Regions from separate parts of the Homo sapiens genome. Here regions 1 and 2 are each linked to region 3. The links come from fine-mapping of genetic effects on gene expression. A gene starts in region 3. Each other region holds a variant in brackets. All regions are shown on one strand. Distances are from middle to middle.

Evidence for each region. PIP is the estimated chance that this variant, and not a neighbour inherited with it, causes the effect. A credible set is the group of variants that fine-mapping cannot tell apart.
Region 1: its variant is the best candidate, but not a certain one, in a credible set for the expression of SHC2 in skeletal muscle (GTEx, PIP 0.84).
Region 2: its variant is the best candidate, but not a certain one, in a credible set for the expression of SHC2 in whole blood (TOPMed, PIP 0.71).

What each region holds. Positions count from the first base shown.
Region 1 is chr19:423,097-427,226 of GRCh38, reverse strand. It overlaps SHC2 (SHC adaptor protein 2), which reads left to right. Exons shown (of 13, transcript NM_012435.3): 10 at 1,996-2,130. Among named protein-coding and RNA genes, the nearest start is that of C2CD4C, 16 kb to the right of the region's middle. The variant C/T (reference allele first, on the strand shown) is at 1,937.
Region 2 is chr19:480,962-485,091 of GRCh38, reverse strand. It overlaps a transcript of CIMAP1D not described here. Among named protein-coding and RNA genes, the nearest start is that of CIMAP1D, 8.0 kb to the right of the region's middle. The variant A/G (reference allele first, on the strand shown) is at 1,631.
Region 3 is chr19:459,308-463,437 of GRCh38, reverse strand. SHC2 (SHC adaptor protein 2) reads left to right here and starts at 2,405. Exons shown (of 13, transcript NM_012435.3): 1 at 2,405-2,909. The coding sequence starts at 2,442. CIMAP1D (CIMAP1 family member D) reads left to right here. Exons shown (of 4, transcript NM_182577.3): 4 at 1-77.

The DNA.
Region 1 (4,130 bases), 36 kb after region 3:
CTAACAGCCTTGCTAACATCTGTGTTGAGCTTTTTTTAGATCTTCCCAAACAATCTGGCATTTCGCTGCCAAGCGTCAGAGCCCTCGAGCTGGTCAGAGAAACTCGAGCCATCGAGTGCCCACCCGGTGCCCAGCTGTGCTCTGGTCCTGGCGCACGTTCCTCTGGGATGCTGGCTGCTCACCCCGGACCGGGGGCTCGCCAGCGTTCCCTGCCCCTGTGCCCACACCCGGGCTGTTCTCACTTGCACTCATGCCCTTCCCGATTCTCTGGCCAAGAACTCCTACAAATGTGCCCATAGCGCGGGTCCAGGGTCCAGGGATTCCTCCACCCGCCTGCGTCTCGCACTGTCGTCCTCCCTCCCCGGACTCTGCCCCTCGCACTGTCGTCCTCCCTCCCCGGACTCTGCCCCTCTCGGTGTCGTCCTCCCTCCCCGGACTCTGCCCCTCTCGGTGTCGTCCTCCCTCCCCGGACTCTGCCCCTCTCGGTGTCGTCCTCCCTCCCCGGACTCTGCCCCTCTCGGTGTCGTCCTCCCTCCCCGGACTCTGCCCCTCTCGGTGTCGTCCTCCCTCCCCGGACTCTGCCCCTCTCGGTGTCGTCCTCCCTCCCCGGACTCTGCCCCTCTCGGTGTCGTCCTCCCTCCCCGGACTCTGCCCCTCTCGGTGTCGTCCTCCCTCCCCGGACTCTGCCTCTCTCGGTGTCGTCCTCCCTCCCCGGACTCTGCCTCTCGTGCTGTCGTCCTCCCTCCCCGGACTCTGCCTCTCTCGGTGTCGTCCTCCCTCCCCGGACTCTGCCCCTCTCGGTGTCGTCCTCCCTCCCCGGACTCTGCCCCTCTCGGTGTCGTCCTCCCTCCCCGGACTCTGCCTCTCGCACTGTCGTCCTCCCTCCCCGGACTCTTGGAACTGCGTTTCTTCCCTCTCACCCATCCTGACCCTAAGAAGCTGAGAGAATCTGTGCCCCTCTTGGTAGACTGGGAAGGCGGGGGAGAAGCCCCTCTGCCCTCGTCACCCAGCAAGGGCTAGTGCAGCCTCACGTTCATGTGGATTCACAGCCAGACCCTGTTCCAAGGCAGAGGCAGTCTGGTCAGGACCTGGCAGAATACACATGGGGTCCAGGCAGCTCCCGAGGGAGATGCCCCAAGGTTACCTGCGATGCTGTTCCGGTTTGAACCATGTGGATAGTTTTTTTTTTTTTTTTTTGGAGACTGAGTCTCATTCTGTTGCCCAGGCTGGACTGCAATGGCACAATCTCAGCTCACTGCAATCTGTGCGTCCTGAATTCAAGTGATTCTCATGCCTCAGCCTCCCAAATAGCTGGGATTGCAGGCGCCCACCACCACGCCTAGCTAATTTTTGCATTTTTAGTAGAGACGGGGTTTCACCATGTTGGCCAGGCTGGTCTCGAACTCCTGACCTCAAATGATTCACCCACCTCGGCCTCCCAAAGTGCTGGGATTACAGGCGTGAGCCACCACGCCCGGCCCCATGTAAACACTTTACACGTTCAAAATACAATTAAAAAAAGAAAGGAAGGAAAATCCTGAAATAGAACTGAGTCAGAATAAGTGACCCTCCGTGCGTCATGTTGATAGCATAATTACAGGGAAGCAGAGTTACTGTGATTATTTTTAAATGTGGAGACTGAACATACACGCACTGGGAAGCTCTGGACCCTGGGCCGGGGAGGGCCAGGGCGGGGTGGGGTGGAGCAGCGGCTGCCTTCTCCCTGGGCGTGGACGTCTGGTGCCCACAGCCCCAGCCGCACGCTGCCCCACTCTTGTCCCTGGTTGGAGCCCCGACGGGGCTTTGCTGCTGTAAGATGCTCCCTGTGGCACCTGCAGACGGGCGGGTTACCACAGGGAGACCAGAGCAGCATCCGCCCTGCAGCCAGCAGCACAGGTGGTGGCCGGGGGAGCTCCTCGTGGGACCCCGCCTTGCT[C/T]CCTGCGAGCCCCTCGCCTGGCTCCCAGCTGACCCCCTGCCCCTCTTTACACTCCCCAGCTCCACCGGGGGACGGCTACGTGCAGGCGGACGCCCGGGGCCCCCCGGACCACGAGGAGCACCTGTATGTCAACACCCAGGGTCTGGACGCCCCCGAGCCGGAGGACAGCCCCAAAAAGGATCTGTTTGACATGCGTATGTGGCAGCCTGGGGGGCGGCCGTCATCGCGTGTGGCCGTGTTGTCTGATGGGGGAGGCACAACCCCACCCCCACTCCCTACGGGATTCCCTGGTCTGATGGGGGAGGCTCCCTTCTCCCCGTGAGATCCTTCAAGTCGACGGGTGGGACGGGGAAGCCCAGTCTGTCTCCTGTCGGAGGCCTTGTCTGATGGGGGTGTCCTGGACTCTGCCTTAAAAGGGGCCAGTCTGACAGGGGAGGCCCATTCTCTCTAGCGAATGCGGCCGAGCAGTGTAATGGGTGAGGCCCAGCCCCTCCTACAGGACCCCATCTCCCGGGGCCTCCCTGCTGAACCCCCAGTCTGGTTGGGAATGCCGCTGGCCCCCGCTCTGTGAGAAGCTCCACTCTCTCGGGGGTAACCCACCTGCCTCTGTCGGAACCCCCGGTCTGAAGGGAGGAGGTTCGTCATTCCTTGAAAGAATGGTCAGTGTGGTGGGAGGCTGCGGCCCCGTCTGTGAGGCCCTCCAGTCAACAGGGGAAGCCAGACCCTCGCCCCATGGGACTCCTTAGTCTGAGAGGGGAGGCCTCGTCTTTTCTCTGTGGGAATCCCGGCCTGCTGGGACGACTGCCTGGCCCGCTGGTCTTGCACGCTGACTCTGGGTCTCCCTAGTCTGATGAGTTTTCTCTTCACGTGACTCCGGGGTCTGAGGATTCTTCCTACGGAAATCCCGGCCTGATGGGGGAGGCACAGCTTCCTGCTTGAAGGAACGCCCAGTCCAATGAGGGAGGCTTAGTCCACCTCTGGACAAAGTGGCTAGTCTGACGGTGAGCCCGTTCCTTCCTTCCCCGTGGATGACCCAGCCCGAGGGAGCCCCCAGCCGGGCGGAGGAGGCTTGTCCTTCCTTGGCTGAGGTGTCCAGAGTTCTCTCCTGATTTCCTGCAGCCTCGACTCTGCCCTTCTCCAGCACGGAGAGGTGTTGGCTCTGAGCTGCCGGGTAGGGTCCTTGCCTGAGCTCAGGATGCCTCCCAAGCTAACTGCAAATTTCTCCCTTTCCTCCACCACCTGACAAAGCAGCTTCTCCTCAGCTTCACAATAATGACACCATCTAGCACCTAGTGGGCGCCTGCTGTGTACCAAGCACTACGTGAAGAGCTTGCTCCTCTTGGCTCCTCACAGCAGCCCTCAGATGGGAAAGGAGGGGCTTGGGGCTCTGAGCTTCCCTCTGAGGCAGGCTGTCCCTCAGGGTGACCAGACTGCCAGGCAGCCCCGGTTGAGGAAGGGTGTCTTCTCGTCCGTCCTCCACGAAGAGTCCTGGGGCTGCCTCTGATTCGCCACGTGCTCGTCCCCAAACCAGTCGCTGGCTGGGAGGGGGAGGTGAACATGCTGACTGGCCAGGCTAGGAGTTGGAGCTGGCTCAGCCCCCAGGGTCAGGGCTGGAGGACCCCCCAGGACCAGGAGCTGGAGGGGCGGGAGACCAGGGAGCGAGGGTCAGGGCGGGAGGACCCCCCAGGACCAGGAGCTGGAGGGGCGGGAGACCAGGGAGTGAGGGTCAGGGGGGGAGGACCCCCCAGGACCAGGAGCTGGAGGGGCGGGAGACCAGGGAGCGAGGGTCAGGGCGGGAGGACCCCCCAGGACCAGGAGCTGGAGGGGCGGGAGACCAGGGAGTGAGGGTCAGGGCGGGAGGACCCCCCAGGACCAGGAGCTGGAGGGGCGGGAGACCAGGGAGTGAGGGTCAGGGCGGGAGGACCCCCCAGGACCAGGAGCTGGAGGGGCGGGAGACCAGGGAGTGAGGGTCAGGGCGGGAGGACCCCCCAGGACCAGGAGCTGGAGGGGCCGGAGACCAGGGAGTGAGGGTCAGGGCGGGAGGACCCCCCAGGACCAGGAGCTGGAGGGGCGGGAGACCAGGGAGTGAGGGTCAGGGCGGGAGGACCCCCCAGGACCAGGAGCTGGAGGGGCGGGAGACCAGGGAGTGAGGGTCAGGGCGGGAGGACCCCCCAGGACCAGGAGCTGGAGGAAT
Region 2 (4,130 bases), 22 kb before region 3:
CTCACTCCCCTTCACCCCACAGCGTCTCAGAAAATCTTGTGAGTTCTGCCTTCAAGACAGGCCCAGAACCCACCCACTCCTGACCATCCCACAGCAGCCCCCAGCCCAGGCCCCGTGGTGCCCACCTGGGCTGGTGTGCTCGCCTCCCCCGGGCTTCCCTACCCCCACCTTCCTACCCTCAGTCGATTCCTTCAAACCCAATTCAGGCCGTGCCCTCCTCTGCTCCAGCAGAGGCCTCCGTGGCTCCCACCCTGCTCAGGGTAAAACCCTGTGTCCTCTCCGTGTCCTCAGGGCCCTTCACGACCTGCTGGGTCAGCCCCGCCCTCCCTCCTCCTGCTCTCCCCTCCTCACCCTGCGGCAGCCACCCTGGCCTCCTCCTCGCTCCTCCGCCTCGCCAGGTGCGGTCCTGCCCCAGGGCCTTTGCACAGCGGTGCCCTCCCCAGACACCCCGTAGATGTCTGCACAGCTGGGCATCCCTTAGAGGTCCTGACTTCCTCCAGGCCTTTGCTAACGTTTCACCTCTTCAGGGGGCCTTCCTGGCCACCGTATGTGAAGACCCAACTCTGCTCTGAGGTTTCCTTTCTGTGATCACGTCACTGCACACTCCAGCCTGAGCACAGAATGAGACCCTGTGTCAAAAATAAAACAAGAGGCCAGGCGCGGTGGCTCATGCCTGTAATCCCAGCACTTTAGGAGGCCAAGGCGGGCGGATCACCTGAGGTCAGGAGTTCGAGACCAGCCTGACCAACATGGAGAAACCCCGTCTCTACTAAAAATACAAAAATTAGCCGGGCGTGGTGGCGCACACCTGTAATCCCAGCTACTCAGGAGGCTGAGGCAGCAGAATCGCTTGAGCCCGGGAGGCAGAGATTGTGGTGAGCCAAGATCGCGCCATTGCACTGCAGCCTGGTGACAAGAGTGAAACTCTGTCTCAAAAAAAAAAAAAAAAAAAGAAAAAGAAAAGAAAAGAAAAAAATAAATAAAACAAGAGAGACATGTGTTCACAGCATTATTTGCGGTTGTTCCGAGCTAGAAGCAGCCTAGAAGCTCTGAGTAAATCATGGCATCTTCATGGGATGGAACGTTGCCCAGCAACAGAAGTGAGTGATGGACAGCTGTCACCCACACCAGGACTGATCTCACAGGCAGGGTGGGAGGTCTCATGAGTGCACCGTCCCCTTCCCGTGCCGCACAGAAGAGGCAAAGCGGGGCCTGGCTTTACAGGCAGGATGGCGGCTGACAGGTAGAGGGAAGGAAGATGGCTGCAGGGGCTTCCGGGGAGCTGGGGACACAGTGTTGATCCCAGAGCCGGCCCCATGGGGATTGATTGATCCCAGAGCTTCCGGGGACCCATGAGAGGAAGAGCTGATGGCTCTCTGCTGCAGGGTCTTCCGCAGGCCCTGTGGACATCCCAGGTGGGGTGGTCCCGGCCACTGCAGGGTGCCTAGCGGCATCCCTGCCCCCACTCACCCCATGCCAGGAGCTCCCCCAGTCGTGACGACCACAGGTGTCCTTGGACACTGCCCAGCGTCCCCTGGGGGCAATCACCTGGGTTGGGAACCCCTGGTCTGTTGATTTCAGCCCACCATGATCTCATAGCTCCGTGTCACTGGAACGAGGGTGAGCCTGC[A/G]TGCCTGGGGGAGTGGTGAGGGAACTCAGGCAGGTGGAGGTCTGTCGGGGAGGAGCCTGTGCTAGACGCAGTGGCAGCCAGGATGGGCGTCTGTAGGGCTTCCCATGGTCATGTCTGAAGAGCTGGCTCTGGCTGACATAGAGTGGCCTTTTGGGGCTGGGAGAGGCGTCCCAGGGATCCCTGAGGAGGTGGGGGTGGGTGTTGGGGGGGGATGGGGCCCTGGACTGGGCCGTGGCTGTGAGGTGGAGAGCAGCAGTCAGCTGCTGAGTGGGCTTTGGATCCAGGAAGCGGCCCCAGGGGTTTGGATCCAAGTCAGCATGGGTCTGGAGGTGCCATTTGCTGGAGTGAGGGAAGGCTGGAAGAGGATGTTTGAATGATAAGGGGCCAGATGCCCTTGTCTTCAGAGTGACCCTGTGGAGTCAGGCTGACATATGCCCGTTTTTCAGAGGAGGAAACACATGCACAGTGGTGCAGTGATTCATCAGGGACCACACAGTGTCTAATCCAGAAACCCTGGTTCATGGGCGCAGGAGGTCTGCCTGGGAAGTTCACTGCAGGAAATTGTAAAGGAGGTGAAGTGGGAATAGCCTCGGTGCCCGTCGAGGGGCGGGGCTGGGGTGCTCGTATGATGGCGGCCAGGGTGGGTGACATTCAGACTGGCAGGTGTAGGTGGGCAGGACAGTGCAGGGCCAAGAACATTCTGGACTTGAGTCCTAGGTCCACACTCCTGCTGGCTTTGTGACCTCCGCCTCTGTCCATGGTGATAGGCATGGAACAGCTCGTGGGGTGGCGCCTGTGAGCACAGAGCTGGCAGCAGAGCCGTTCTGCATGAGTAATCTGCTGTATGCCAAGGACGCCCTGCCGATCTCACCCTGTATGCAGTAGGCGATTAATAAGTGCCCATCCACTAAGGCAGCATTTCCCCATCTTGACACCATTGACATTTGAGGGTCTTCTCTTGGGAGGAACAGCGTTGTAGTTCTCCAGTCACTAGATGTCATCAGCACTCCTGGTCCTGGCAGCCAAGAATGTCTCCAGACATAGCCAAGTGTCCCCTGGGGGCAGCAACACCCATGGCTGAGCACCATTGGCCCAAGGGATCAGTCCTAGGCTCTACTCTCTAGACCTGTGCTGCCCGACACAGCGTCCACAGGTCACAGGTGACGCTGGAGCACTGGAACTGTGGACGCTCCACACTGAGGCAGAGAGTGCAAAACATGCCAGGCTGGGAGGACAGCATTAAAAGAAGAATGTGAAATATCTCACCTGTAATGTTCATATGCAGAAATGATATTATTTTGGATATGGGGGTTAATAAAATGTATTATTAAAATTAATTTCACGTGTTTCTCTTTTTTTGATACAACTACTAGAAAATTTAAAAATGGCCGAGCATGGTGGTTCATGCCTGTAAACCCAGTGCTTTGGGAGACTAAGGCAGGGGGATTGCTTGAGGCCAGGAGTTAAAGACCAGCCTGGGCAACATAGCAAGATCCCATCTCCACACACAAAAAAGAAATTAGCCAGGGATGGTGACACATGCCTATAGTCCTAGCTACTCCAGAGGCTGAAGTGGGAAGATCACTTCAGCCCAGAAGTTGGAGGCTCCAGTGAGCTATGATTGCACCACTGCACTCTCCAGCCTGGGTGATAGAGCAACATATTGTCTCAAAAAAAAAAAAAAAAAAAAAGTAGGAGGTTCTCAGTCTGTTTCTGGTGGGCAGTGCTGCTGTGGGTGATCAACTTTCTGGCTACACCATGAGCTTGGTGAAGATGAGTTGGTCTTGGTTGCCATCATCCTTCCCATTATCCTTTCCCATCATCCTCCAATCATCCTTCTCGGTCATCCTCCCATTGTCCTTCCCATCATCCTTCTCCATCATCCTTCCCACCATCCTTCCCATCATCCTTCTCCATCATCCTCCATCATCCTTCCCCATCATCCTTCCCCATCATCCTTCCCATCATCCTTCCCATCATCCTTCCCCATCATCCTTCCCATCATCCTTCCCCATCATCCTTCCCCATCATCCTTCTCCATCATCCTTCCCATCATCCTTCCCCATCATCCTTCCCACATTCCTTCTCCATCATCGTTCTCCATCATCCTTCCCATCATCCTTCTCCATCATCCTTCTCCATCATCGTTCTCCATCATCCTTCCCATCATCCTTCCCATCATACTTTCCCATCATCTTTTCCCATCATCCTTCCCATCATCCTTCCCATCATCCTTCCCCATCATCCTTCTCATCATCCTTCCCCATCATCCTTCCCACATTCCTTCTCCATCATCCTTCCCATCATCCTTCCCATCATCCTTCCCCATCATCCTTCCCACATTCCTTCTCCATCATCGTTCTCCATCATCGTTCTCCATCATCCTTCCCATCATCCTTTCCATCATCCTTCCCCATCATCCTTCCCACATTCCTTCTCCATCATCATTCTCCGTCATCGTTTTCCATCATCGTTCTCCATCATCCTTCCCCATCATCCT
Region 3 (4,130 bases):
GAGGCAGCCCCGAGGCCTGTGCCTTTCCCACTCCACCTTCTACAGTTGCTTAGCCAATAAACCTTTCCTGGGCTGGAGAGCTGTCAGCATCACATGTGCTTACTCATTTAATGTGTCTTTTTTTTTTTTTTTTTTTTGAGACGGAGTCTCGCACTCCCGCCCAGACTGAAGTGCAGTGGCGCGATCTCGGCTCACTGCAAGCTCCGCCTCCCGGGTTCACGCCATTCTCCTGCCTCAGCCTCCCGAGTAGCTGGGACTACAGGCGCCCGCCACCACGCCTGGCTAATTTTTTGTATTTTTAGTAGAGATGGGGTTTCACCATGTTAGCCAGGATGGTCTCGATCTTCTGACCTTGTGATCCTCCTGCCTTGGCCTCCCAAAGTGCTGGGATTACAGGCATGAGCCACCGAGCCCGGCCTTAACGTGTCTATTGATGTCACAGAAAAGAGACCCGAACGCCGCCCTCCAGAGCCAGACCCGTAGCCCTCCAGTGGCCAGGGGGTCTGAGAGACCAGAAGAGAGACCCAGGGCGAGGGGAGGCCGGAGGTGGAGCCAAGCTTTTGAGCAGGCAGCCAGGTAGGCTTCCTGGAAGAGGCAATATTGAAGCTGGGTTTTGAAGGATGTATAGGAGCTTGAGGTATTCTAATATCTGCCATCAGTAGCTGCTTGCTATGTTTTGGATATTAATAAAGATCATCTAGGCTTCATAGCAACTCAGGACCAGGGGCATCTACTGAGAGGAAATGGTGCTTTGGAGAGACTGGACATTTGTCCTGGGGCATGCTGTGAGCCCCCACCTCAGTCTGATGTCAGGATTTGAACTCTGGATGTTGGACTGAGTTCCTGCCACTGTCTCCAAGGGACAGGAAGGAAACACACCGGGGGTGCCGTGTGACTGAGCCCTCTGTGTGCCAGGGAGGGATGGCACCTGGACCACCTTACAAACCTCCCATCCAGAAAGACCCTAATCCCGGAGCTTGGGAGGGTGCGACACTGCCCCGGGACCTCCCTGAGGGATGCAGCCTGGGAGGCATGCAGGGCGCAGAGAGGGGGTGGTGGGGCTGCTCTCTCCTCAGCCCACAGCCCTCAGCCTAGGGCCGCCAAACCTGTCCCACCCTTTACCCATTAGGTGAACACACCCCAGGACCCAGCAGCCTGGATCCCCTGCATATGCCTGGACACGCACCCAGACACAGCGTACACCCTGCGCACAACACACACACCGCGCGCAGGTCCAGCCGCGGCTCCAGCCCGACCAATCGCGCCCACGATCTGCTCCTCCCGCGGACGCGCAGGGGCTGAGTCCGACACGCGCCGCGGCAGAGACGGCCGATCGCGACCGCGCGCCTCGCTCCCCTCCCCCACCTCCCCGGCCCCGCGGGCGGCGCCGGCTGTGATCTCATCCCCTGAATTATCGATCGGGCTCCGGGCAGCCTCGCCCCTCCCTCCCTCCCCACCTGCCAGCGCGTCCCGGCCCCTCCCTTTGTTCCCGGCAATCAGCCCTGCTTGGGGCGGGGCAGGTGCAGGGGAGCTCCAGCCAAGTCGGGCCAGGAGGCTGGGTCCCGGGGTGACAGTGACACCCCGTTTTCTGGTGCAGAAGGAACCGACCCTTGAGGCCAGGGAAGGTGCGGCCGGTCTCGGAGAGGTTGAGGCTGGGGATGGAGCGACCGGCCTGGGAGGCTGAGGCCCAGAGCTCAGATGAGCTGGTGCGGGACTGGGCTCCCCAGAAGTGAGGGAAGAAGGGCCGCGACCCTCCAGCCCGCTCCCCTGAGTTACAGCCGGAGAAACTGAGGCCGGGACAGGCCGCAGAGCAGGGGCCCGGCTCCGCTCCTAGCCCCGCCCCCCCCCCCCACCCCCGAGCCGGCACTCCTGGGTTTGAGCTTCGTCTGTGAGCCCTCGGCCGCGCCCCTTCCCCTCCCCGCGCCTCAGTTTCCCCACTAAGAAATAGGGGTGACCCTAAGGTACCTTCTAGCTGCAACAACGGAGAGGGAGGGGCTGACCTTAGGGTCTGGGGTTCTCTTTTCCCTGGCCGCGCCTCCCGGGGCCTCAGTTTCCCCACTAGGAAATAGGGGAAAGAAGGGATGTGGAATTTCTAAGCTTCTCCAGCTCGGTCCTTCTGCGAACTTGGGCGGCGGGCGGGGGTGGGGGGCGCAGCGGGGAGGGTCGCTGACGGGGTTCTGGGTTCAAAGCCCCGTCCCGCCTTGGCTGCGGGTTCCAGGCCAGCGCCCGGTGTCCTCGGAGGGCCTCAGTTTCCCCAGCCTCGCGGCCAGGCTCCGGGACGAGGAGGGCCGGGGTCCCAGGGGCGCAGCCCCCCGCGGCTGCGCGCTGGGCCGGGCGGATGACATCACCGGGCCGGGGGGCGGGAGGGAGCGGGCGGAGCGGGAGGGCTTCCTCCGCGCCAGGCGCAGCGCCCGGTCGGGCTCCGTCGGGCGGCCGCGGCCATGACGCAGGGTCCGGGCGGGCGCGCGCCCCCGGCGCCCCCCGCGCCCCCCGAGCCCGAGGCGCCCACCACCTTCTGCGCGTTGCTGCCCCGAATGCCGCAGTGGAAGTTCGCGGCCCCGGGCGGCTTCCTGGGCCGCGGCCCGGCGGCGGCGCGGGCGGCTGGGGCCTCGGGGGGCGCGGACCCCCAACCCGAGCCGGCGGGCCCGGGGGGCGTCCCGGCGCTGGCGGCCGCCGTCCTGGGCGCCTGCGAGCCCCGCTGCGCCGCGCCCTGTCCCCTGCCCGCGCTCAGCCGCTGTCGGGGCGCGGGGTCGCGGGGGTCGCGGGGCGGGCGGGGGGCGGCGGGGTCCGGGGACGCCGCCGCCGCCGCCGAGTGGATCCGGAAGGGCAGCTTCATCCACAAACCCGCGCACGGCTGGCTACACCCCGACGCCAGGGTCCTGGGGCCCGGGGTCTCCTACGTCGTGCGGGTGAGTCCCCCCCACCCCCCCCGGGAGCCCGTTCGCGGCGGCCTCCCCTCCCCCACCCTCTCCTCCGGGACCCCCGGACCCCGCGAGCCAGGTGTCCCCTCCCCATCCTTCCTGCTCTCCCGCCACCCCGGACCCCCATCCCCGGCCGGCGGCCGGCGGCTGCCCCCACCCGGAGGCGCTGGGGTCCGGGTTCCCACGGCGTCACGTGGGGAGGGGCGGGGAGAGGGCGGCGGGGGAGGGGCGCGCATGCGCAGGTGCACCGCCCCCCACTCGGACTGGGCGGGCGAGGCCGAGAGCGGCGAGCGGCCGGGGCGTCTCTGCCACCGGAGCCCCCCGGACAGCTGTTCACGAATGACAGACGGGGCCCGAGACGCTGGCCTGCGGTGGGGGTGCGGGAAGGGGTGTTTGGAAAGGGGCTGGCGCCCGGACAGACCCCAGGATTCCAGATGGGAGGCAGCAGGGACTTCCAGGGCGGCCAAGGAAGCGGCCTTTGTTTATTTACCTTGGGTCTTATGATAAATGAACCTTTTCAAACACACGGGGAAGTCGGGCGCCTGGACACAGCACGCCTCCACCTAGGAGGGTAACCTTCCCCTCTGCTGACGGGTCTGCCCCTCTCTGTGGTTTATAGTAAACCGTGTGAAGTCACCTGCAGGGGTGACAGCGCCGTGCATAGTCCCCCGTCTTCTGAGAGAGCAGCTGTCCTACAGCTGCAGTCATTACGGCGTCTGGGAAAATGATCAGCCACTCCCGCACGCCACTACCGGTGGGTGCTCCCAGCTCCTCCCGGCCTCTGCGGCCAGGAACATTAGCCTGTGTTCACATTGGGTTGTGTCTTTGCTTTTCTGGACACTGAGTTCAGTAGGGTCCTTCCCTCTACACTGAGTTGAGAAGGGTCCTTCCCCTTACACTGAGTTCAGTGGGGTCCTTCCCCCTACGCTGAGTTCAGTGGGGTCCTTCCCCCTACGCTGAGTTCAGTAGGGTCCTTCCCTCTACACTGAGTTGAGAAGGGTCCTTCCCCCTACGCTGGGTTCAGTGGGGTCCTTCCCCCTACGCTGAGTTGAGAGGGGTCCTTCCCCCTACGCTGGGTTCAGTGGGGTCCTTCCCCCTACGCTGGGTTCAGTGGGGTCCTTCCCCCTACGCTGGCTTCAGTGGGGTCCTTCCCCCTACGCTGGCTTCAGTGGGGTCCTTCCCCCTACGCTGGGTTCAGTGGGGTCCTTC